Homo sapiens: one gene and its partners. The protein of the gene in region 1 interacts with the protein of each later gene in a biochemical or structural test. Each region holds a gene or a part of one and is shown on either strand. Other genes may lie near its edges.

Region 1 (7,031 bases):
GGAAACTTGGAGGCTGAGAGAGGGAAAGTGACCTGCCCCAGATCACACACCGAGGCAGGTGATGGAGCCGATGTGAGCCCAGGCCTCCGCTTTCCGCTCTTTTTTTTTTTTTTTTTTGAGATGGAGTCTTGCTCTGTTGCCCAGGCTGGATGGAGTGCAGTGGCGCAATCTCGGCTCACTGCAAGCTCCACCTCTCGGGTTCACACCATTCTCCTGCCTCAGCCTCCCAGGTAGCTGGGACTACAGGCGCCTGCCACCACGCCCGGCTAATTTTTGTATTTTTAGGAGACAGGGTTTCACTGTGTTAGCCAGGATGGTCTCCATCTCCTGACCTGTGATCCTCCCGCCTCGGCCTCCCAAAGTGCTGGGATTACAGACGTGAGCCACCGCACCCGGCTCCACTCGTTTTTTAAGAGAGGGTGTCGCCCTGTTTCCCAGGCTGGAGTGCAGTGGCACAACAATGGTTCATTGCGGCCTCCACCTCCCAGGCTCAAGTGATCCTCCAGCCTCAGCCTCCTGAGTAGCTGGGACTACAGGCACGGACCACAACACCTGGCTAATTTTAACACTTTTTGTAGAGATGGGGTCTCGCTGTGTTCCCCAGGCTGGTCTTGAAGTCCTGAGCTCAAGCGTTCCTCCTGCCTCGGCCTCCCACAGTGCTGGGATTACAGGCATGAGCCACTGCGCCCGGCCTGCTGTTCACTTGAATGCAGCATTCCACAGCATGGGGGAACCCGGATGAAGGCTGTGTGAAGGCCCACACTGGACAAGGACCCCCCACGGGGCCTTCCCCATCAGACTGGAGCTGTCATTCCCCCACAGCACAGGATGGACAGGGGGAACGTCCAGGCTCGGGCCAGCCCCCAGGAGTCCAGGCAGCCCTGGAGTGTGGGGAAGGGAAACAGGCCCAGCTCAGCCTACTGACCCCGCTGTCTTCCTGTTCCAGACACGACCGACTTCCAGGAGAGCTTTGTCACCTCCGGCGTGTTCAGCGTCACTGAGCTCATCCAAGTGTCCCGGAGTGAGTGTTCCCGTCAGCCCTGAGCTGGGTCTTGGAGAGGGGAGGGGGCCGCAGGGAGGAAGGAGCCCACCCCCCTCACCCTACTCCTTGTCCTTTCCAGACAACCCCCTGTGTCACTAAGCCAAGGTTCCTAGAAAGGGAGGTGGCCAGGCCCTTCCCAGAGCCCAAGGTCAGGGCTCCCTCCCACCTCTCCAGGAAACAGAATCTAAATGCTGGATGGCAACTAAGGAAACTTCTGCCCCAGCATCCCTCCTCCTCCCTGGGGCCTCCACTGTCCTGTCCCAGGAGACCCCAAAGGACCCCGCCCCTCCTGTCCCCTTGCTTTCTCTGCTGACCTGCTGGGGACCCAGCACATTCCGTCACACACTGTCTGAATCCCACCCCAGCGAGTCCTGGGCGCTGTCCTTCTTTAGCCCTGACTGACACCTTCCCTGTCCAGATCAGCAGAGCCTGGCCTCCAGCTTTGGCTACACCTCTGCCTCACAGTGTGCTCTTGGCCTCTCCCCATGGCCTTGGTCCTCTGATCCATAGAATAAAACTGGTTTCAGCCACCCTAGGAACCGGGCCAATATGGGAAGGGGGTCCCCCTTTGGACTGCACCCAGTGGCTTTCCCTACCTCTCTAAAGCAAACCGCAGCACTGGGCACTGCTTCCTGCCTCACTCTCCTCTGTCACCCTCTGCAGCACCCGTGGTGACTGGAACAGGACCCAACTTCTCCCTGGGGGAGCTGCAGGGGCACCTGGCATACGACCTGAACCCAGCCAGCACTGGCCTCAGAAGAACGCTGCCCAGCACCTCCTCCAGTGGGTAAGTACCCAGGTCCCCACCTCTGGGCATTTCATGACCCCATTCATCAACCCATCCCCTCTGGCCCGAGCTGACTCATTCCTCTCCCTGGAATACCTCTTTTCACGATTCACCTGGCCTGAGAAACTCCTACTCATCTCATCCTTCAAAACCCAGCCAGCCCCACGTGCCTCTTCCCCTAGCCCTGACAGCCCACCGTGGGCTCCCCCAGCCTCAAGTCCTGCCGGCTCAGCCAGCCCTTAGGACCCTCCCCACCCAGAAGAATGCAGACACAGGTTGTTGCTGAGATATGCTTTGTGACCTCGAGCAGGTCACACTGTGTGTGCCCCAGTTTCCCCATCCATAAAATGGGATCATACCCCTAACAGGCAGTTCTGAGGACTACAGGTGGCCAGGAGATTAGCCAGGCTGCCTGGGTTTTGGTCTCCACCATGCTAGCTTGGTGTCCGACCTGTGTTGAGACCCTCCCTGCCTCTGGCCCGGGTGTCCCATCCAAGCAATGGACAGGTTGGAACAGGCGTTCGTAGGGAACGGGCTGAACGCCCGCGGCTCCCGCGATGTCTCGCGATACTACCTCCCTCGCCCCCGCTCACTTAAGGACCGGAAGTAGCAAAGCCCGCCGTCGCGCCCCCCGCCCCGCGTCTCCCTGGTAACCAGCCTCTCCCCTTCCCTCGCCCATAAGGAGCAAGCGGCACAAATCGGGCTCGATGGAGGAAGACGTGGACACGAGCCCTGGCGGCGATTACTACACTTCGCCCAGCTCGCCCACGAGTAGCAGCCGCAACTGGACGGAGGACATGGAAGGAGGTAGGGCTGGTGGCGGGGGCGGAGCCGGCCTTCCGGTCTGAGTCACCGTGGCGGGAACTACGTCTTCCGGCAGCCACTGCGCGGGCGCCGCGGGGCAGGAAGCCGGCCTGGAGCCGCGGGGCCTCCTGGGAATTGTAGTCGTCCCGAGCTGCGCTTGGCTGGAAGTACGGTCCGGGTTCGCGTTCTCGGATCTCTTTGGTTCCGCTGCGGCGAAGGAGGGCAGAGACTGTCCCCTGCCTGACTCTCCTGCCCTCCGGCCGTGAATGCCACATCTCTGTGGGGTCCCCGAGCTGCAGGATGGACTCAGTAGTGACTCTGATCAACAGGGCGCCTCTTCCTGGGATCTGTCATAGAATCCCTCGTCTGTAGGGACCCTGTTTGTCCTCTTCCCCTCTAGAAGGTCCTGAGATGCCGGATCCCTTCTCATTGGGGTCCTTCTTGAGGTTACTTTTTTTTTTAACCAGGTTCCCATCTCCATGGGATCTTCTGGTTCTGCAGGAGACTCGTCTCCTTTCTGTAGGGTCTCCATTCCCATGGCGTCGTTTTCTAGGAAGATTTTATCCTCTTGCTTTTCTGTCTTCAGAAGGGTCCTCTCTGGGGTGTCTTTCTTTCTTTCTTTCTTTCTTTCTTTTTTTTGAGATGGAGTTTCGCTCTTGTTGCCCAGGCTGGAGTGCAATGGCGCGATCTCCGCTCACTGCAGCCTCCACCTCCCTGGTTCAAGCAATTGTCCTACCTCAGCCTCCCAAGTAACTGGGATTACAGGCATGCACCACCATGCCCGGCTAATTTTTTCTATTTTTAGTACAGACGGGGTTTCACCATGTTGGTCAGGCTGGTCTCAAACTCCCGACCTCAGGTGATTCGCCCGCCTCGGCCTCCCAAAGTTCTGGGATTACAGGCGTGAGCCACCACGCCCGGCCTCTGTTTTTGTTTGTTTGTTTGTTTGTTTGTTTTTGAAACGGAGTCTCGGTCTGCTGCCCAGGCTGGAGTGCCGGGGTGCAATCTTGGCTCACTGCAGCCTCGACCTCCCAGGTTCAAGTGATCCTCCTGCCTCAGCCTCCCAAGTATCGGACTGCAGGTGCATACTGCCATGCGCCGTTAATTTTTTTTTTTTTTTTTTTTTTTTTTTTGGTAGAGATGGGGTCTCACTATGTTGCCTAAGCTGGTCTTGAACTCCTGAGTTCAAGTGTGATCTTTCCTCCTGCCTCGTCCTCCCAAAGTGCTGGGATTCCAGGTGTGAGCCACCATGCCGGGCCCCTCTTATTTTTTTTTAATTTTTGTTTTTTGAGATGGAGTCTTGCTCTGTCACCCAGGCTGGAGTGCAGTGGCGAGATCTTGGCTCACTGCAACCCTTCCTCCTGAGTTCAAGCAATTCTCCTGCCTCAGCCTCCCAAGTAGCTGGGATTACAGGCACCCACCACCACACCCGGCTAATCTTTATATTTTTAGTAGAGACAGTGTTTCACCATGTTGGCCAGTCTGGTCTCAAACTCCTGACCTCAGGTGATCCACCCACCTCGGCCTCCCAAAGTGCTGGGATGACAGGTGTGAGCCACTGCTCCCGGCCACCTGTAGGATTTTTAGAAGCAGTATAACATTAGGATTAAGAGGTCAGATTCAGGCATTGGAGAGACCTGGGTTCAGATCCCAGCCCTGCCCGTGTCTAGCTCTGTGTGCTGTGTAACCTGGGGCACATCACTTAACTTCTCTAAGCCTCAGTTTCTTCATCTCCACAATGGGGGTGATGTGAATAATGTTCTTTGGGAGCTACAGGAGGAGGAAGGGTAGGATGTGCGTGAAGCAACCGTCTGGCCCATGCGACATACCCGGGAAACGGGAGGTCACTGTCATCCACGTCTTTATAACATTCCTGTCTCTGACCAGGCTCGGTGGCTCACGCCTGTAATCCCAGCACTTTGGGAGGCCGAGGCAGGCGGATCACGAGGTCAGGAGATCGAGACCATCCCGGCTAACACAGTGAAACCCCGTCTCTACTAAAAATACAAAAAAAATAGCCGGGCGTGGCGGCGGGTGCCTGTAGTCCCAGCTACTCAGGAGGCTGAGGCAGGAGAATGGCATGAACCCGGGAGGCGGAGCTTGCAGTGAGCTGAGATGGCGCCACTGCACTCCAGCCTGGGTGACAGAGCGAGACTCCGTCTCAAAAAAAAAAAAAAATTCCTGTCTCTTTCCGGCACTCGGACGCATCTAGTTGTGACATTTCAGGTGCCAAGGCCCCTCCCTTCCACAGTGTGGGCTCCCAGAGCAGGAACATTCCTAAAGGGTCTCCATCCCTCAGGGGACCTGTCTCAGTATTTATGAGGTTCTTTTTTTGTTTGTTTGTTGTTTTTGTTTTGAGATGGAGTCTTGCTTGTTTTGAGAGATCACGCCAGTGCACGCCAGCCTGGGCAACAGAACGAGACTATGTCTCAAAAAAAAAAAAAGAAAAAAAAAGTCACTTCTGTTTCGTTTTTTTTGTTTTTTGTTTTTTGTTTTTTTTTTGAGACGGAGTTTCGCTCTTATCACCCAGGCTGGAGTGCAGTGGTGCAATCTCGGCTCCACCTCCTGGGTTCAAGTGATTCTCCTGCCTCAGCCTCCCGAGTAGCTGGGACTACAGGCGGGCACCACCACAACCAGCTAATTTTTGTATTTTTAGTAGAGACGGTTTTTACTATGTTGGCCAGGCTGGTCTTGAACTCCTGACCTCAAGTGATCCGCCAACCTCAAGTGATCCGCCCATCTCAGCCTCCCAAAGTGCTGGCATTACAGGTGTGAGCCACCGCACCCAGCCGTGACTTCTCATTAACTCTGTAATTGATGAGGCTGTCAGAATGTAAACTGCACGCTAATTAAAGTGAAAGACCACCTTTGCGATGAGCCAAAGCAACCCTGAGAGGAAAAATTGTAGCTTTAAGTCTATTTATTAGGAGAGGAGAAAGGTGGAAAATAAAGAATCTAGCTTTCAACAGAGAAAACTCAAAAAGAAAACATTTTAAGCTCTGGAGCTCAGTCTGACTTTTCTGCCCGGCTGCTCACTGGCAACCCCTTCCACTGGGGAAGGAGGTGGTAGCAATGGGGGGAGGACAAAGAGGAAGCCCCCACCAGCTTCTGCTCTGTGATTGGGAATCGCAGAGCTAGCAGGGAATGTCAGAGGAGGTCTGTGCTCCTGCAGCTTCCACTTGATTACCTCAGGGGATGGCAAACTCACTCCCTCCTGAGGGTTTCTTTTTTTTTTTTTTTTTTTTCTTTTTGAGACAGAGTCTCGCTCTGTCGCCCAGGCTGGAGTGCAGTGGCGCCATCTCAGCTCACTGCAAGCTCCGCTTCCCGGGTTCACGCCATTCTCCTGCCTCAGCCTCCCGAGTAGCTGGGACTACAGGCACCCACTACCACGCCCGGCTAATTTTTTCTATTTTCAGTAGAGACGGGGTTTCACCGTGTTAGCCAGGATGGTCTCGATCTCCTGACCTCGTGATCCGCCCATCTCGGCCTCCCAAAGTGCTGGGATTACAGGCGTGAGCCACCGCACCCGGCCTCCTCCTGAGGGTTTCATCCTCAGTGTAAAGCCCTCCTGTGTGCTGGCCCTACCTGAGGCCCTGGGGACACAGAGATGATCCAACCCACTCTTGTCCCTACCTTCCAGGGGCTAACAGCCTAGTGAGGGAGATGGGTTTTTATCCAGGTGACTACAGCCCAGAGGAGGAGGCACAGAAGACAGTCAGGGGGAACAAGAGGACCCTGATAGAACTTGGAAGAAAAGGGAGGACCTCCCCGAGGAGGAGAATCAGGCTGACAGAGCAGTGAGGAGCTCGGGCAACTGGCTTCTCTGCTTCTCCAGCTGTGTGACATTTGGCAGGTTCCTTAACCTCTCTGCCCCTCAATTTCCTCTGCTATACGATCAGGTTGCTGGCCGGGTGCAGTGGCTTACAACTGTAATCCTAGCAATATGGCAAGACCCCATCTCTACTTAAAAAAAAAAAAAAAATAGCATCACATAGTGGTGTACACCTGTAGTCCCAGCTCCTTGGGAGGCTGAGGTGAGAGGATTGCTTAAGACGGGAGGTCAAAGCTGCCCTGAGCTATGATCATACCACTGCACTCCATCCGGGGCAACAGAGAAAGACCCTGTCTCAAAAAAAAAAAAAAAAAAAAAAAAAAAAAAAAAAAAAAAAAAGGCTCACCTGTAATCCCAGCACTTTGGGAGGCCGAGGCAGGCGGATCACCTGAGGTCAGGAGTTCGAGACCAGCCTGGCCAACAGGGTGAAACCCCATCATTACTAAAAACACAAAATTAGCCGGGTGTGGTGGTGGGCACCTGTAATCCCAGCTACTCGGGAGGCTGAGGCAGGAGAATCACTTGAACCTGGGAGGCGGAGGGTGCAGTGAGCCGAGATTGTGCCA
Region 2 (4,252 bases), on another chromosome or scaffold:
AGAGGTGGTTTTCATTGCAGGTGACTGAGGCTGAGCTGAGTAGCCCTGGACCACCGCTGCAGATTGCCTGAGTCGTCCCCTTGGTGCACAGTGTGCCTTCTTCAATTGCTTGTATCATTTATTCCACAAGACAGGCTGTGGGCTGTAAAATGAGCAAAACTAAAATGTGGGGAGAACAAAATGACAATCAATCAGTGAACATTTGTAGACACATTTGGATTCCAAACCTGCAGTCTGTTCAGCCATATCGGCTGATGCCAGTCTTCCAGAGTTCCCCATCCCTTGTAGGGTGAAATATTTGGAGTCTGTTTTGAAGGAGTTGGTTTAGATGAGCTTGCAAGTCTACCCCTCTGAAAGCTTTCTCTGCTGTCCTAGCTGACTCAATTGGAGGACAGTTTTGGTCATTTCCAGGAACCAGCAATTTTTTTTTGGCCTACCTTGGTTGGGAAGAGTAATTTAGGGAGCAGCCCTAAAATTGTCCAAAGGGTTCTAAGTGGTTCTTGGGCTGCATCTCTCTGGATTGCTGGCTGGACACCTGCCATGCCTTGGGCTGCAGTCCCATGGTCAGAAAGCCAGAACTCTCTGGCCAGTGGTGGTGCAGGGACTCCCCGTTGTGCAGGTTTGCAGTAGCAAATCACTAAGCCTGAGGCCAGAGCAAGGCCAACCCCCGCTTTACGAGTTGCCACTCCTGCGACAGACTGCACTGCTGTGGGAAACGCTGTCCTGAATGGTGCTGCAGCTCCCACCCACCTTGTGCACCCATCTACCATCAGGAAGCTCTCCATGTGCAAACTGGAATTTAGCCAGCTGGAATTTATTCCTGTCCCTCTGGGAAGCTGTGTTTGCTTCTTCTGGCCTCCCATTCTCTTAAATGAGATCAGCAGAGTAGGAAAGGGTGAGAAGGCATTGCCTATCACATGAAGTGATGGGGCCAGAGACCCTAAGGACCCTTCCTTCTACGAATGGTTGGTCACCTTTTGAGGACTGCAAAGACTTAGGCATGTCATAGGCAGACTAAAGGAAGAATACACAGTTCCTCTTGGACTGCTACATCTTTTGTAAGCCCTTTTCCAGGACTAAACTAAGTTCAATTAAGTAAGTTCTTTAAAACAGTAAATTCCGGGATCAGCCTTCGGGCCCTCTTCTCTGACCAATTTTATAGCGTACCCTCGTTTTTTGGTGTGCTGCAGTGGTCATGATTTTTGCTTGAGAAGTCTGCAAACATAGACACTTCTCTTGAGGTTCCATGTTTATGGATGATGTTGTGTTAATCCTAGCCAATTCTGTGCTATTGGGAATTCTCCAATCATGAACACTGGGGTGGGGAGGAAGACACAAATGCCATGTGAGGAAAGGAAAATGCAGTCGTCTTTTTGGAGGATGGCTTTTTAAATACACCCTTCTTAGCAGGCTGCTTAAAATACACAGGAGAAAAGGCTCTGCTGGGCAATGAACCAGATGAAAAGCTGCCCACCCAGATCACTGTTGCAGGTTGACTATTTGGCTTAGCAACTCATGGGATTTCAGAGGCCCTTGAAGTTTTTGGTGAGTATAGTGTGGGGGAGAGCAGGCTTTTTAAAAGGGGGGGGGGCATCCTCCTCTGTGTAGCACTGTTTAAGATCACTGTAAGTAAGTTGACCAGTTTTTGTAAGTTAATCATACTAATTCCCAGTTCAATAGTGGAAGGAGAGGCCTTCCTCATTTATACTAATAATATAATAAATCTCTTGAGGAACTCAGTGAGCAGTTGACGAGGTCAATAGTTCTTTGGCATCAGTAGGGCTGGTTAGCTGGAAAAACCCTTGAGAGCACTGGCCTGAAAACCAGGAGAGCTTTGTTTTCCAGAGCCACCTCCCCAGAAAGCAGCAAACACTGCTGCCTGTTTAGAAGCACAGCCACAGTAGGTCTAAGATTTTAAATGGATCTCCCTACAGGTTGGGTTAGCATTATGGGTGGGCTGGTGCCACTAATGAGCCATTGCATGACAGGACTCTTCTGGGGTTTGGAAATGGAGAAAAGCCGGGCATTCATTACTTTTAGCTTCTCTTAGAGGCACTCCTCTGTTGCTTGGAAGTCTATTATGGGGTATAAGGTGCTACATGGTAGCTGTTTCCCCCCTTGCTAAAATGACATGGATGAATTTTAAAAATGAAATGAGACCTTCTAGAGGCAACCATTATCTGCAGTGCCTGGCTGGTCGACTTTAGAGTAGGAAGCTCTTGAATCCAGGAGCAAATTAGTTAAAACCCCAAGTTCCAGTGGTAACTGGTATAAGCAAAATGGAAACTGAGGGGCTATGGAGGAATCTCTGTTTGTTGGAACGTAATGAAACCATGGAGGAAATACCAGATTTAAGGGCTAAGAAGCTGGCCCGATGGGTAAATCAGTGTTGGGAGTCAGGTTCTTGGCCCTTCAAGGACTTGCTATGCAACCTCAGGCAAATTCCTCTCAGTCTTTGTGCTTTCTCTTTCTTGTCTCATCTGACAGTTATGAATATAACGTAAAATAAAGATCAACTATCATTGATAACACTGTTCCTGCAAATGAATACTGTGAAACATCAGGGAAAGAGGAAAAAATTAAGCCACAAGAAAACCATTTGGCAGTGTCCTTAAACTTTTTTTGGGGGGGGGCAGTGTAAAACATGAAACCTAGTAAGATAATTGGGCCATTAGATCTTCATCATTAAACTCACTTTGCAAGGAAGTGTAAGAAATCTGTAAAACAAAAGACATTCCTATCTCAGAAGCTCAAACTGGTGATTTCCAACTGCCTCTTTACAGGAGGGGGCTCAAGGCTTCTGATGAGCAAAGGCTGTGTGTTGTATGACAGTCCACTCTCTGCACCTACACTTCCACGTGCCACGACTGACAACTTGGTTATAACCATGAAAATAATGACCATACCTCCCCAGCCAGCAGGGTCTGGAAGGCCTGAGGAGGCTCATTTTTAAACACTGCACTTTAAAAATTGGAAACCGTGAGATGAAGAAAAATTCAATTAAGCGGAAATGAGTTTTGTTTTATTGCCTGCTGCTGAAGGGCTCTGGGCATGCTGAAAGCTAAATGAAAAGCACATCACTGGCTCTCTTCTTTCTTGGATTGGTCAATTGGCCCTTTTTGCAGTAGTTGCTCCAACTGTTCTAAACAGTGAGTGACTGGAGCCAAAAAGAGAGAGCTCAGCAAAGCCATCCCATCCACACTCTGCTTGGTAGGACCACACTAAAAGCACAGTTTCATGCTGCTAGCTCTGGTAAGGAGACAGCTGCAGGTTTGGGAGGTGCACCAAGCATTCCTTTGCTTAGGGAGGCAGAGCACAGGTGAACAGAGGAAGGACACCCCCACTCTCATCTATTGCCCACCGAGAGGCAAGAATCACACCAACTTTCCCACTTGAGGACTGTGTTCGGCCAAACAAGCAGGTTCAGGGCTGCGGGATTCCAGAAGTTGCTCTGAGCTTGCAATCAGACCTCAAAGCCCCAGATCCCCTCAGCTCTGGATCGTTGCCCTCATCCTTCACAATGTAAATTTTGTACAGTTAAAGAGAAATGAAGTCTCGTTTCCTGGGGAAAAAAAAGAAAAAAAGAAAAAAAAAAGACCCACCCATCCTTATTTATTGCCATATGACTTTGGAAAACAGAAGCTGGTGCGTTTGTTTGTATATGCCTCCTGTGTGTTGGCATGAGATGTGTACGGTAAAATTATGTAAAATAAATATGGAAATTCTTTAGATGCTGATGTGTCTTGCTTTTCATTTGGTTTGCTGGAAGTTTTTTCTCTTGACATAAATAGAATAAAAACTGAGTGATGTGAGGTCCTTTCCTTTTATCATCAGAAGGAAACCAAATATACAACTCTGAATGCCAGAACTATTATACTTAGAGCCATGAAATACCAGAACCACTCAATAAAGGACTGATTAGAGGAAGTTCCCTGGTTTTTCTAATAGTCATTTCCTGGGCACGATCCTCTGCCCCCAGACTTAGGAAATGAGCAGTAGAAATGTTGACCATATAACTTTTAGTTCCTGTTTGTTCAGTGGCATTTTTAAAATTTTTTTTTGAGACAGAGTCTTGCGCTGTTGCCCAGGCTGGAGTGCAGTGGTGTGATCTCAGCTCACTGCAACCTCTGCTTCCTGGGTTCGAGTGATTTTCGTGCCTCAGCCTCCAGAGTACGTGGGATTACAGGCATGCGCAAACACGCCTGGCTAATTTTTTGTATTTTTAGTAGAGACGGGGTTTTGCCACGTTGGC
Region 3 (7,542 bases), on another chromosome or scaffold:
TGAATAAACAAATGAGCCCAATACTACAATGTTATTCCCTTATTCATACTCTACTTAACAATAAGATGGTAATCATACTAGATGATCATCTATGTCAATCATCCTAATTAAGTTTTCCTTCATTCACAAAATCATGGCATTGTAAAGCTAGATCTTAGAAGATCATATACTGCCCCCACCGCACCAGGCACAGACAATCTGGCAAGATCAAAAATGACTAGGCTCTGTTTGCTACTTTGGTTATTGGAATTCACTTAGCCAATGAGAACCCCACCTCAGAAATGCATGTATTAGAACAATGAGAGTGGTGATGGTAGTCTGCTACATGGTTATTTTTTTCCCAATTTCCAATGTGCCCTGAAAAGTCTAAACAAGAGGGATGTATAGCTCCTGAGGGCTCTGAAGGTACAGCCATTAAGTAAGTTGGTCTTGAGGGTGGACTACATAGATGCACCTGTCATTTTTACTTTTGAGGTTATTATTTCTACTCTTCCTATGTTTTCTGCCTGTCTGCCCTCCAGGCTTACCTGAAGACATTGCTCCCCACCCATTCTCTGTGTCCCCAGCAGTCACCAAAGGTCAACAACTCTCAAGGGCTTCCCCATAACTCTGAAGAATGGGATGAGGTCATTTACCTATCACTTGTTTCTGTTGTCCAAAAGTCCTGTTGGTTATATCATTCTGGTTAAGTTGCCCAAAGAATGAGAGAAAAGGCAGGCTAGTAGCCCTTTCTTTCAGAAGTGATGAAGTCTGGTGGAAACAATGTTAAATCAGAAGCAAATAAAACCTGTGTTCTAGCCTCAGCCTTTGGACAAACTAATTCAGTCTTCCTAAGTTTCGTTTTACCACATCTGGAAGGTGTTTTAAGGACAGAAAAACACTAATTTTATCAGCAGTGGTCCAGAAAAATAGTTCCAAACTGAGTAGAAAAGGGAAGTTGAACTAAGATACAAGTGGCAGCCTCTGCCACATACACAAGATATTTCATCCACCCGAGTATCTACTGAGATAGAATTATTAATCTGCATTCTATGGAAGAGAAAAGCAAGGCCCAGGGTGATGCAGCTAATAAGTGGTGATACTAGGGTTTCAAAGCAGATTACCCCAAACCATGGCAATCTCCATCAGTTTCAAATCCAAATTTAAAGATTATTCTTTTTGCTCAATTATTACCACACTGGGTGACAGGTGCTTAATAAATGCGTTTCTTCACGATGAATATAATACCAAAAGAAATAAGACATGGTGCCTTTGGCCACCTGTTTGGATGTGATTTATTTTTTCCCAAATTCTTAGGGTTAAAAAAAAAAGCCCACAAAAAGACAGCTCCGCCAAGTGGCTAAACAAATGGATTCACTTCAGCAATCACAGCAACTCGGCCCAGTCAGTCTTCCACCTACACAGACGAACCAACTGCCTTGGCCACGTCTTAAAGGGCCGGAGCAGAGCCTAGGCTCTGGCTTCCTTCTCCAACCAAGCTCAGCCCCTCCTTAAAGAGCTGGCACGCCCAAAGCAGCTCCTCCCCCGCAGCTGCTTCCAGGCCTCACTCTGTGCCTCCAATAGCCTAACTTTGCACCTTAAACCACTGTCCCCTCCTCCTTCTTTTCAGAAGCTTCTCTAGGTACCCGCTATGGCTTCAGGGGGTTACCTGGGAGCTTTGGCCTTGTGAATCCTGTTCTCTCTGGTTGTGACTTTGGCTGTGTGGGGTTAAGTCAAAGACAATCCTTACCGCTTAAGGAGTATTGGGAGTGCCGAGCCAGGGGAGACTAGACTAGACAAATCCATCCATTCTTGCCCCCTTTCACTTCTTCCACCAAGCTCTCTCCTCTCCTTCTTGGCCTTTCTTTGCCCAGCCCTTTAGCAAAGTCATTTTCCCTTGAGTTTCATTTGATTCCACATAGTGTTCTTAACCTTCCGCTCCCGCCCCCACTGCTGAAACCCCAAGTGGGGTGTGTGGGGGGAGCAGGGGGACTGGGAGGGGGATAGAATCTAGACGAAAGAGGTGGGAGTGGGTGGGTATTAGTCCCAGAGTCACTTACCGACCATGTCACTAGCTGAGGACTCCTGAAGTGTCCAGAACTCATGCCGTCCTCCGGGAGGCTCATACTCCTGAGCTGATCGCAAGAGAGCTGTTCCCCTCACACCCGCCCCATTCTGACATAGCGCAGGGCGACGCGTTCTCGTCTTCTCGTTCTTGGGCCCCCACTCCCCTATTTCTCCGGGCTGGAAAATGAGGAGGGGGTCGAAAGGGGAGGGAGTCGATTCAGACCCAGCTGGGCCACTCTCGGAACAAGGGAAACAAAGCTCTCAAGCATCCAACCCAAAAATCAGGGGCCGGCAGAGTAGACTTCCTAAAAAGAATCCTCCCCCCTGCAGCTTTTCCTTGGACAAAAATAAAGTGGGTTCGCTGGGCCGAAGTGGCCAGAGCTTAAGGTCCTCCGTTCCCCTTTTACCTCTACCAATTCAGTTCCGGCCAAGCCCGCTCTCCACCCATCCTCTGAACTCCACACACCCTTTAAAAGGAGAGGGCCGGGGGTGGGGGCTATGAAAACCAACCCAACCCCCAAAGCGCTACTTGAACATAAAGTTGAGGCGGAGAAGAAATCCTTCAAGACAGGAACCCACGAGGAGATACCACAAGAGGATCCCTTCACCGCCGCCGTTGCCGCCGCACACCCCAGCGCCTTCCTAAAAAGAAAGAAGGGAGGAAAAAAATGCCGACGATTGGTAGAATCATAGAGAAGAACACCAGCCCCAGGGCAGGGGCTTCAGCGAAAAATGGCAGCAACTCGTGCGGGTCCTCTGGGGCGGGGTTTCTTGGAGGCACCTAGCTGCCCCACGGGGTACCTCGCGCCCCACGCGAGTCAGAACCTAAAGTGCTCTCTGGGCAACCTGAGTGGGTAGAGTGATTCCGTCTTTCTCTGGCCCTGCTAGGCCCAAAGGAGAGGTGTGACTATCGTGAGGACTCCACCTAGGGTGGAGTTCCTTAAAAAGGACAGGCGGCCGCTAGAGGAGAGTGCAAAGTGGGAGGAGGTGGAGAAGGGTGGGGCTGAGAAGGAGGAGGGAGGAAGGAGGGGGTGGGGCGGGGCCCTGGGCCGACAGAGCTGGCCTCGCCTCCGGCGGCCGCCTCCCTCAGCCTCCAGCAGCGGCAGGTATAATTCCAATCAATTTCACTTCCTTATCTGTCCCAAAATTAAGGCTTGCAAGCACACTGCTTGATTACCTATTTACTCCGGTTATGCTAATTCTCCAGGGGAGGGTGGTGAAACGGGTACTGGGATTGGGGCTGGGGGCTGTCTAAGAGGGAAAGGAGAAAACAAAAAAGCTGACAACTGGAAGCGATATTTATCCTCCTACCTCTCCATGGTAACACGAACAAGGACAGCGAGGTCACAGTGTCTTCTCAGGGAGGAAGCTAAAAGGAACGGAGATTGGAGCTTGGTGCATTTTCTAGCAAGAGATAAGCCAAGGAGGTGAGGGCGAAGGAGTAGGTGGGGAAGAAGAAGGAGTTGAAGATGATCTGTGAATACAGCGTGGCCCAGCAGGGAGACTTAAGAAAGGCTTTCTCAGTCTCCCAGATACCAGACCTCTAAGAATAGAGTTCTCAACCCCCTGAGACCGCCTCTCAGCCAGGCATTGGCGAAGATCCCCGTAAAGCTGAATCCACAGGATAGGAGCCATGTTTCCAGGATTTCTTTACGCTTGCCTGAAAGTCTCTCTCTAGCTCATTTTAATGGGAGGCCAGGAAGTCACAAGCAACCACAGCCCATTTTCAGTGCCTCTTCCCTACCACAATTCTTTTAAAGAGGAGGAAAAAGAAGAGAGACAAGAAACAAAGCAGAGGGAGGAAGAGCAAAGAGACAGGAGAAATAATAATATCTGCCATGTATTCAGCACCTAATATGGGCAAGTCCCTGAGCCAGGTGCTTTTACATTCAACATTTCCCCATTTAGTCCCAATAACAACCCTGGGAACTAGGTACTGTTATATTCTCTGTGCCCTTTATTTAAAAAAATAAGGAAACGGAAGGCCTCAGCCCAGTACTTTCGAACACATAGGTCTACTTACTTAGTTGATATTTCTGCCTGAATGTCTTCTGTGCATCTCATCTACCTTCCTTTCCCCAAAACACTCTGTTCTTCCTCCTGTAGTTCACCAACTACCTGAATGGCACCACCATACATCCAAGGCAGCACCCTGGAACTCATCCTTTAACCTGCTGTGATCTGGCCTTTGTCTGCCTCTCAAGCAGCAGAGATTTTGCTGTTCTCCTGGGCTTTACCTGGATTACAAATCCCTGGGAATTCCAAGCTGTTTCCAATCTCTATGCCTTGGGTTGCTTTACTTTCTCTGACTGAAATAGACTAAGCTCTCTGTCCACCTTTTTTTTTCTTGCATGTCCTTCCAATGAATCTGTCCACTTTCTTGAAAGGACTAACTCAAGGTCATCTCCCCTCCTTACTTAATTTCTTCAGGCAAAACTGACCATTGCTTCCTCTGTGCCCTTCTCTACCTCGGGGCACATATTTGTTGGTATAATTGCCTCCCCCTACTAAACTATAAAGTCCTTGAGCTGAAGCACCAGGCGATCTCATTTCTGTAACTTGGATGCCAAGTTATATTATTATTAACAATAATAATAGTTATTGAGCATTAACTATGTACTAAACTCTGTTGTAAGCCTCTTATGTATATTAACTCATTGAATCCTTCTGACAATCCTATGGGTAGACATTGCTATCCCCATTTTACAGATGTGGAAACTTAGTGACAGGTTAAATAAATACACATGCATATGTATTTGTTTCATAAAAGAATGTCCCTGTAGTAGGGGTTTCATAAATAACTCTCTATCTCACTATATCTCTTCACCACGACCTGCACCCCTGCCAAGCTTACAAGGTAAGATATATTGAGATGGAATCATACAGAGAAGTGTACAACTCTCTATGCCTTCATTTAAAAAATTTACTTTATTCCTTGGAGGCTTTGTTTCTCAATGTATAAAATTTGGGGAGTATTATCCAATATAGGATTCTTACCACTACAGCACTGTTTTGAGCAATGCTGAAAAGTTTTCTCTTAGATTCAAGTGTGTGAAAGACATTAAGCAGTTTATATCAATAATAAATGCATTTTTGTGATGTGCAGATGAAAATGAGTAGATTGCTGAAGTAACATTTTGAAAAGAGTAGCCACTACTAGCCCTGAATACAGTGGGTGTGCCTTAAGGTCATCGAGTTACTTTTTCAGTCTGAAATAGCTTTTCAAGAAGGTCGATCCATACACAGATAGCTTAACAGTTTATATTTTATTAAAAGTCTTTATTGTTGACAAATTTATTTTAAGCTCTAGCTTTTTGTTTGTTTTAGAAATACTGCCTCAACTTTATTTGTGGGGAAAACTTAGACCTTAGATGGCAAATTCAGTTTTTGGAAAACTTGAAGTTATTGAAACTTGGAAAAACAAACCCAAGATCCTTTCCCATCTGTTCTTTCATCTATTCAGTCAATAAAATGTATTGAGCACCTGTGCTTTATCAAGAACAATGCTAGGTGTTGGGGGGCGGTGGAATGAGAACATCCATTCTAAGAGGCTCCAGTGGATGAACCCTCAATTTCACTGTACGCACACAGCCTATTAGTCCACATTTCCCCTTCAAGTCCTTTAGAGATGGCCTCTGTCTCACTCAAATTAGGACCCAAAGATGGTTCACAGGGAACTATGAAACCCATGACCACAGTTAATGTCAAAGGCAGGAGTTTGCCTTTATATTCTTTTACTCTTGACACATAGAAATAATCAGCATGTGGTTGGTGTTGTCTATGTCACACGAAAGGGTGTGAGGGAGCAGGTATGGGGAACTAGAAGTTTTGATAAATTTCCCTGTCCGTCTAGGAAACACCTCAGGCTCTCCTTTCTTTAGCTGGCTAGAATAAACATGAACCAAATAGCAACCTGCGATATTTTCAACTCCTTCCATCCCACCTTATGCGTGAGGGAGACTGCTTGAAGAAGCAGCCTGTGCTTTCCTCTATATATCCAAGTAATCAGATGAGGAGTGTTAAATTAAGTGTGGAACCTAATGAAAAGCAGCTGAGAAATATGCAGACACGATTCTGGGCCCACATATGCTGTTCTTCCCTTCTTCTCTTTCTCCTCTTCATCATCCCGCTTCTCCTCCTCCTGAAAGCCAGCTGACAAACTACCAGGGTGGAGCCCAGTCTGAGGGCTGGAGGGAAGGGAGGAGGAAAAGCCTCAGTAAGAGGACTCCACCCTCTCTGCTCCCAGTAGAACAACAACAATAAAAAAAAGAAGGCTTGAGAAGCTGGGCCTGACAGGAAGGTGGGGCAGAATAGGGCAAAGTGAGGAAGGGTGGGTAGATGGGAGGGGAGTTAGGACCTCAGCTGGGTAAAGCTGGGCTGGGGAATGAAAGGGAAGTCAAGCAATATACAAACAGAAAAATCTGCATTCATTAAATCACTGTTGTTTGTGGAACAACAAAAATGTAGCTAAAACCAGGGCATAGTTCAGACCTAGTGGGAACAAAATTGTCCTCCTCACCCACTTTTCTTCTTATTCCACAGTTCCCCAGAGAGCATATTCCTTCTGCGAGCTCAGCTAGAAGGAGACCTTTTGCCCCTCCGCTAATGTTGAACCAGTGTTAAGTTCCTCACATGTCCCAGAGGACAGCACTAAGGTTACTGCCAGCAAAGGATAAAGATATTTTGGAGAAGGAAATCTAGTTAGCTGAGAGAAGAAAGCCTGGAAGGAGATTGCGGGGATAAAACAATGATTTAGATTGCAAACTGTGCAACCCTGGGCAAGTGCCTTCACATCTCTAAACATTTCCTCACCTATTTCTTTTAAAGATATTACTTCACAGAATTGTCAAAAAGATTAAATAAGATGCAGAGGTGGCTTTACAGTAAAATTAATGAAGCTTAAGCTTTACGCCCCTTTCCAAGACTCCAGAAGGGATCAAACATTGTGTTTTTCTTAAAGATGGTCCCCAAAGTGGTATAAGCTTCCAGCCCCACAAAACCTAGATTGGCCGCCAATGAGATTATAGCCTACAAAGCACAGTGTCTGGCACAAAGAAAGCTCTCAATAAAGGTTAACTAATATTCATAGCAATGGCAACTGTGAAAACTACCAGCTTTAGGTTGAGTCTCTTTCTGGTCATAGATATTGAGAACATGCTCCTGTGTTCCCCATAACCCTTGCCACTGTATGTATAAATAAACCAGTTTATAAAAATCAGCAACTAAACTGCTTGCTTGAGACATTCAGAGGCATGATTAAATTTGGTTTAGGAATGGCCAATGGGCCAGAAACATGTGGCCAGGGTTTGAAATTCTGGCACCGCACCATCCCAGACAAGCTCTAGCAGGCCTGCTGAGTCCTATAAATTTAGTTGTGCCTCAGGCTGCTATCTTTATGAGCAAGGAGCTTGACTAGGTGTGTGTGTGTGTGTGTGTGTGTGTGTGTGTGTGTGTGTGTGTTGGGGCTAGGGGGTTGAGTATGTATGGGTTTTTAAC
Region 4 (7,031 bases), 1.6 Mb from region 1:
CACCGGTGGCTGCAGGGCTGTCCCGGGGGCCATTGAGAACGAGTTCCACCCCCACCCACCCCTGCCTGGAGTGCTTCTCTGTAAAGGGAACACCAGTCGTGGCCTGGCCCCATTTTTACAGATAAACCAACTGAGGCACACTGGAGGAGCCCCACCTGTGATTTCGGCCACATTTGGCCCTGGGAGCAGGGAGGCCAGGGGAGCAGTGGGATGTTCTTCATGGGGGCAGCAGGCGGCAGGACTGCACCTCCCGTCCCCTGGGTCTGGCCCACAGCCCCTATCCTAGCCCGGCCAGCTCTCGGCTCTCTCTCCCCTGCGTGGGGCGGGGAAGGACTTTGGAAGCTGTGGGTGATGTTGACGCCGTTGCTATGGTTACGGAGAGTGAGCGAGCCAGCGAGTTGGGGCGGGGGCGGGAGGAGAGGCTGGCTGTCGGCTCCCTGCTCTCCAAACCCCCTGCATCCCCGGAGGGCCCCCCCCCCGCCCCCGGCATGCCAGTGCCCGGCACACCGTCAGCCTGCACCTCCAGAGGGTTTGCCGACACCCTCCCCAGGAGAGGGGCTCAGACCTGGAAGGGTTCTTCTCACCCAGGGCTTCTCTCCTCCGCACTTACCGAGACATTTGGGGCCTGATCGTTTTCTGGGGAGGGGCTGTCCTGGGCACTGCAGGGGGTTATGCAGTGTCCCCAGCCTCTACGCACTCCATGGCAGGAGCACCCCCTCCCCAGTCGTGACAATCACAAATGTCCCCAGACCTTGTCAGGTGCCCCCCAGGGGGCTGCAGGGTCACCCCCAGTTGTATCCCACTCTGAAGTCCCCTGCCGCAGGCCAGCACCCAGCATCCCAGTCCCCGCGCCCCAGGACTTAGGGAACTGTGTCCGTGGTGGCGGGGGGCGGGGTGGGGGGTGGCAACAGGGATGCTAGTGATGACGGAAAGCGCTTCCTGGAGGAGGCAGCCTGAGGCCCACTGGGCTGGGTGGGGCAGGGAATGGGAGAGGAAGGGCGTGCTGGCTCTGGGGTCTGCTGTGGAGGTAGGGACTTGAGGTGGGGAGGGGGCACCTCGGCAAGGTGAATCCCTGCACTTAATCCCGAGGGTGGGGACGCTGGGGGCGGCAGTGAGGCAGGCTGGGCTTTGCAGAGGCAAATCCATTTATGGAGAAGGGATTAGGATCAGAGAGGGGTTGAGGAGGGCAGGACGAGATGTGGGAGGGATCGAGGCGTGCTGGTCTACGCACTGGGTTGGAGGGAGACTCCTCAGGACGAGGTGTGCAGAGGAGTGTCTGAGTGCCTGCCAGGTTTCTGATCCCTTGCTGAAGAGGGCCCCAGGAGGACAGGTGGGTGGGGAAACTGAGGCCCAGAGGGGGAAGCAGCCATGCCCCACTTCATTCTCTCCTCCACCCCCAGGCAGAACTATGCGCTCCTGTAGGGTTGGGATGGCAGTGCTGGTGGGCAGAGCTTGGGAGAACTGGCAGCTTATCTGGGGAGGGTCGGAGTGGGGCAGTGCCAGGCCATAGGGGGTGGGGGGTAGGGGGCCAGGGACTGCCCTCCCCCACCCACCGCCTCTCCAGCCTGCAGAGTGCAGAGAGCAGCTGGAACTGCCTGCAGGTGCCCCAGCTAGTGGGATGGGGAGGGCTCCCCCAGGGTTGTGGGGGGCGATAACCACCCCCACCCAGGCTCTCTGATAAAAGCAGCCCAGATCGGTGGGGAGGAGGCACATGATACCAGCAGGGTGAGCTGTGGGGGCGGGGGGCACCACCCTGGCTTAGACCATTTCTGGAACAGAGGTTACACAGGCACCAGGGTCCTTGAGGGGGTTGTCCCCTGCCGACCCCCAGGTACCCAGAGTCTGGTGCAGGAGGTCCTGGCCTGGGTTGGGCCTCAGGTGGGCCTCCTTTTATGTAGAAGGGAGTAGTGATAGTTTGGCGGCGGGGTGGGGAGGACAGGAGTATTCAAGATGCTGAGCAAACATTATCTGCCCTTGCTCTTGTTGGAACCAGAGCTTGATCCCCTAGGCCTGCATTCTCCTTTTCCACAGATATGCATTAAGCACCTGCTGTATACCAGGCCTGTGCTGGGCATTGCCGGGGACCCAGCCGTCAATGAAGTGCCTGCCTTCTGCTCCCACTGGAGTGCAGGGGTGCAGATATTACACCCACAAGATGCATGCGTTTTTGGAAGCCTGGTACAAAGACAGAGAAGCTGACCAAGGGTGCTTGGGGGGCACCAGGCCACTGTGAGGGGCACTGCTGCTCAGAGAAGCTCCGGGCAGGATCAGCCATCAGTTTTGACCCTAGGCCAGGGCGGAACTCAGGAAAGCCAAGCGCAGTCTGGGTGCCCAGGCGGGAGCTGCTGGACTACTGCACTAGTCCAGGAGTGAGCTGGGAGGGGCAGGGTGGGGCCTGGACGGATCCCGAAGGTGATGGGATTTGGCTGGCAGGTGGCACGTGGGGAGGTACGGGATTGACACAAGGGTGGGTATGCCTGCCTGCGTGTTTGGCGGGAACAGCAGGGGGTTTGGAAAGGGGAAGTCTACTGGAGGAGTGGGGATGGGGGAGGAAGGAAGCTTTGGCTTTGGGAAGTCAGGGGAGCTAGGGGCAGAGTGGGTGTGGGGGTTGCTATGGCCCAGTAGTATTCGAGACCCCACCCCCAGGCTGGCAGGGCCTCACCACCAGTGTTCCCCCTTTTCTGCAGCGGCTCCCAGAAGCAGCTGCCTATAGGTTCTATAGAACCTGCTCAAGGATCACCTTCAGGAGCTCCTCCCTTCCCTGGGTGGGTAAGAGGCCTCCCCAGCCCCAGCCTTTCCTGGCTCTCCTGGGATGCTTGCTTTGCGGCTGGGGCTGGTCTTCCCCACCTGTGCCCTCCCCTACAGACCCGACCCCACCTGTTAGGTGGACGTGAGTGCCCCGGCAGGCAGCCGGCCACAGCCCCCCTCCCCACCCCAAGGCCCCCCAGACAAGCTCAGGAGGTGAGGCTTCCCTGTCGGAACCAGGGCCCTTGGCACAGTCCCGCAGTCCTGTCTCCAGGCCCCTCCTGTGCCGGCTCAGACGGGGCCGGGCCAGGTTTCCAGGACTTCCTGGACTCCATTTTTCTGAGCCTGCCTGTTTCCGAGGCTGTCCTGAGCTCACCCGGGCCCAGCCTGAGTCAGAGGGTCAAGTCCACCGCGGCCCCGCCCACACTGCCCTCCCGCGTTGTCCCCACCCACCGCATCCTCAGGGCGCTGCGTCTCGGCCAGGTAGCGCGGAGCAGCTGGGTGGCTGTGCACCTGGGGGCCCGGCTGGCTAGGAGCAGCGCGCTCTGGGCCCCCACAAGTTCACCCCACCCTCCTCCCTGCGAGTGGATTGTGTGCGAGGCAGGGCCTGGCATTTCGCAGAGGCGCTTCGCCCAGCGCAGCGTGGGTGGGTAGCCCGTGCACCCCCTGCCCCGCCACCCACGTGCGCATGTGCGCGCCTCAGTCTCCAAGCGCGGGGCGGGGCTGGCAGGCACCCAGGCCGGAGAGGCGACCCTGGCCCGGGCCCCCTGGCCCCGGCGGGAGTGGGACCACGTGAGCGGGGCCGGCTGGGGCTGCGGATGTCCCCGCCGCCGCCGCCGAGCTACGTGCGGCAGCTGTGTTCCCAGCGGCTGCGCGCCCCTGCCCCGGTCGCCCCCCCCACCCCGGCAACCTGCTCCTCCTTGCAAAGTGGAACTGGGGGAGAGGGAGTGGAGACCAGCCCCGCCGCCCTGAAAGGGGAAGTGAACCAACTGACTGTCCGGCACCCAGCCGTGGGATGTTCCCCCTTCCCTCCTGCCGCCTCCCCGCCTGTGCCTTGCAAGATGGCGACACGGCGGCATGTTCCCTGGAGGGGCGCGAGCCCCAATCCCGTGGTCTGCTCCAGCCGCGCTCCCACAGCCAGACCCCGTCCCCAGACTGAGGCCCTTGGGAGCTGTCAGGGCCCAGTGGTTGAGATGGGAGTGGGGTCCCTTCCAGGGCTGCTCTGCGCCTCTTGCTTGGGTTGTAGACGGCCCCCAGCTGGGGCGGACCCGCGACCCCAGCTGCATCCTGGGTTGCTTGGGGGAGACTTGGGGTGTGGAGCAGGCAGCCCCAGGGATTTGAGGCTACTGTTGGTCTTGGTGACAGCTGGTCTCTCCCCCTCTCCAGCTGCCTGGATTCACAACCTCTTGGGGAGGGGGGCTGCTGGTCTCTGTCTGCAGTCTTGTTTTGCTGAGGGTGTCGGGGTGTGGCAGGGAGGAAGGATGAGATGAGAAGGGAAGGTTTTTTCTTCCAGCTCTTCTTGGGTCACGGGTGATCGCTGGTGCCCCTCAGTGGGCAGACCCCTCCACCCTCCCGTGCCCCTCCTCAGCTGGGCTCCCCAGGGCAGCCCCTGATCTTAGAGCAGAGATGTCACTCGGTCACCCTGAGCATGGCCGTGCCCCTCCCGCCGTCTCTGTACCCCTCACCATGGTCCCTGCTGTGGGTCCTTCTAGGCCCCTGGCTGGCTGCAGTTCTTCATGGACCGGTGGGAGTGCTCCCAGGGCCAGAGCAACCTCCAGTGCTGGGCGTGGGCTGCCCAGTTTGTAACCCACCGGGTGACTACCCTCCTGGCCCTGCTGTGGCTTCCTTGAGAATAGGCTTTGGGGCCACTCAGGGGAGTTGGTTCTGACGTCTCTTTTGCTACTCAGGGCTCCAACCAGTGCCACGAGGGGCATGCACATCCGGTCTCCATCCACACAACCCACCCTGGGGTGTCACGGGAATAACGTCCCGGAATGCCAGGGTCCAGGGTACCTGGTGCAGGGCCCGAAAGGGTGGGAGCTTCGGGGATGCAGGGCCCTTTGTCCTGCTTCGGTCCCTGGGTGGAGGTGGACTGACCTGCCCCTCCCCAGTCGTTGGAGACCCCTATCTGCTGGGGAGACGCTGACATCACGATGCCACATGCTGTGGGCGTGAGACCCCGGCTAAAGGAAGGGGTCGGGTGGCACAGTTCTAGAGCAAAGACCCACACCGCCTGGAGGCGCACAGGCAGGCCCAGATGGTGACGGCTGGTTAGGGGCAGGATGGGCGAGGCCCGGCCTTGGCGGTGGGAGGGGACTGTGGAGGAAGTGGCCGGGTGGTGGCCCGCCCCTGCCCAGCGCCATCTGTCCCGTGGGGGTGGGGCGAGTCCAGCCCGCCGGGCCCCGCCCCTTCCCGGGAGACCCCGCCCCCTCCCCTCCCTGTGAGCTTTCCTGCCTGTCTTCCATCTAACCACACCCCGAGATCGGGGCCCAGACTGACTGTGCCTGCGGGTTCCTCCCATGCCCCCTTGCTCGTGGAGGGGCCAGGAGGGTTAGGGAGGTTGCCATGATTGTACCCCCTTAACCCAGCCTTTGCATCCCAGGTGGTCATTTGGAAAAGGAGGGGATCATGCACAGATGGAGGCCCCTGCATGCCCCTGGGTGGGGGGCAGGGACAGCCTGAAGGCCGAGCATGCCTTCTGAGCGTGCCTGTGCCTGGGACAGACACTGGGAGGCCTTTGCTAATCCCTGCCAGGGTCCCGCCTGGGGCCAGAGGCTGCGAGGGCCTGGGGAGCTTCAGCCTTGGGGGTCTGCGGCGGTTACTTACGGTTAACAGATTCTGGGCTCGCCGGAGAGTCCTTTCTAAGAGCTGGTAGGAAATAAGAGGATTATTTATTAGGGTCTCGTGTTGGGCCACCGGGGGGCGGGTAAGGGTTGTATTCTTTGTGCTTCTCCATGTTTTGAACTCACACCAGAGCTCAGCCTCTAAAACGGCACGGGACAAATGCCCGCCACCCTTTGGGATCTGCTGGAACGTGTCTGTCATCTCCCCCCGCCCCCGCTGACCCGCTGTCTGTCTCTGTCTCTCCGTCCAGGGGAACGCCCTTTTGCTTGTGACTGGCAGGGCTGCGACAAGAAGTTCGCCCGCTCCGACGAGCTGGCCCGCCACCACCGGACGCACACGGGCGAGAAGCGCTTCTCCTGCCCTCTGTGCTCCAAGCGCTTCACCCGCAGTGACCACCTGGCCAAGCACGCCCGCCGCCACCCCGGCTTCCACCCGGACCTGCTCCGGCGCCCTGGTGCCCGCAGTACCTCCCCCAGCGACTCGCTGCCCTGCAGCCTGGCCGGGAGCCCTGCGCCCAGCCCCGCGCCCAGCCCAGCCCCCGCAGGCCTGTAGGGCCCTCGTGCAGCCCACCCTGACCGCCAGGATGCTTCTGCCATCCAGGGGTGTAGTGAGGACCCACGGGGAGCCTGGGCCCCTTCCAGCCGTGGGCAAACCCTGAAGACACCCCTGCCCCCCTCCAGAGAGTGAGGAGGGGGCCTGAGACTGGACCTGGGTCTGCCTGACCTCAGAGGTGGCTCTCAGGATGGGTGACGGGGGCTTGTGTCTGTAAATAGCCATGATACTAACTTTCTTCCCATCTGTGCAACGGGGCCCCCCCAGGGCAGCTAGGAGGTCCTCCCCTCTCCTCTCCACCACCCCCTGCTGCCCCCCTCCCGGGGTGGGGTTTGGGGGGGTGGAGTGGACTTCTGGGAGCCGGCCCGGGGAAAGCACCCCCTGCCCCATCCCTGCAGATTGGGATGAAGTGTTCAGACAGCCATAGAGGAGTCGGGGGTTGACACGGCCCCTGCCTCTCCCCACCCCACCCCCACCCCACCGAAAGCCATGGGAGTAGTTCAGGGAAATGGGGGTGCAGCCCAGCCACCCCCCATTCGGGTACTCAATCTCAGGTGTCCACAAGTTCTGCCCACGGTAGGGGCTGCCTGGCCCCCCAGACCTCGGGGGTAGAGCCAGGAGTGGGGCAGCGTTAGGATGCCCGGAGGGGCTCCAGGTGTTGCTTCTGAGACCTGGGATGGGGAGGGAGGGGACCTCTGGGTTCTTCCAAAGAACATTTGACTCAGTGGGGTCGGGAGGGAATCCTGGCTTATTTATTTTCCTCTGTCCTCGGGTGTGGGGGCCCTAGCTCGCCCTCTCTGGGTGGGTGGGTGAGAGAGGCTGCAGGGGAGGCTGGCACCGGGCTTGGGCCTCCAGTCCCTGCCTTGCTGACTTTGGCCGTTGCGGTATCA

The links.
Region 2: the proteins of NFIC (region 1) and LHX4 form a complex in vitro, tested with the Homo sapiens proteins (one study listed by BioGRID).
Region 3: the proteins of NFIC (region 1) and KLF8 form a complex in vitro, tested with the Homo sapiens proteins (one study listed by BioGRID).
Region 4: the proteins of NFIC (region 1) and KLF16 form a complex in vitro, tested with the Homo sapiens proteins (one study listed by BioGRID).

The regions. Positions count from the first base shown.
Region 1 is NC_000019.10:3,432,572-3,439,602, forward strand, and holds part of NFIC (nuclear factor 1 C-type), read left to right. Parts: intron 1-946; coding exon 947-1,021; intron 1,022-1,705; coding exon 1,706-1,829; intron 1,830-2,511; coding exon 2,512-2,636; intron 2,637-7,031.
Region 2 is NC_000001.11:180,275,254-180,279,505, forward strand, and holds the end of LHX4 (LIM/homeobox protein Lhx4), read left to right. Parts: 3' UTR 1-3,731; downstream 3,732-4,252. UniProt on the Homo sapiens protein: May play a critical role in the development of respiratory control mechanisms and in the normal growth and maturation of the lung. Binds preferentially to methylated DNA.
Region 3 is NC_000023.11:56,227,839-56,235,380, reverse strand, and holds the start of KLF8 (Krueppel-like factor 8), read right to left. Parts: upstream 3,026-7,542; 5' UTR 2,106-3,025; coding exon of another isoform or gene 2,047-2,105; coding exon 2,040-2,046; intron 1-2,039. UniProt on the Homo sapiens protein: Transcriptional repressor and activator. Binds to CACCC-boxes promoter elements. Also binds the GT-box of cyclin D1 promoter and mediates cell cycle progression at G(1) phase as a downstream target of focal adhesion kinase (FAK).
Region 4 is NC_000019.10:1,853,569-1,860,599, reverse strand, and holds part of KLF16 (Krueppel-like factor 16), read left to right. Parts: intron 1-5,839; coding exon 5,840-6,141; 3' UTR 6,142-7,031. UniProt on the Homo sapiens protein: Transcription factor that binds GC and GT boxes and displaces Sp1 and Sp3 from these sequences. Modulates dopaminergic transmission in the brain.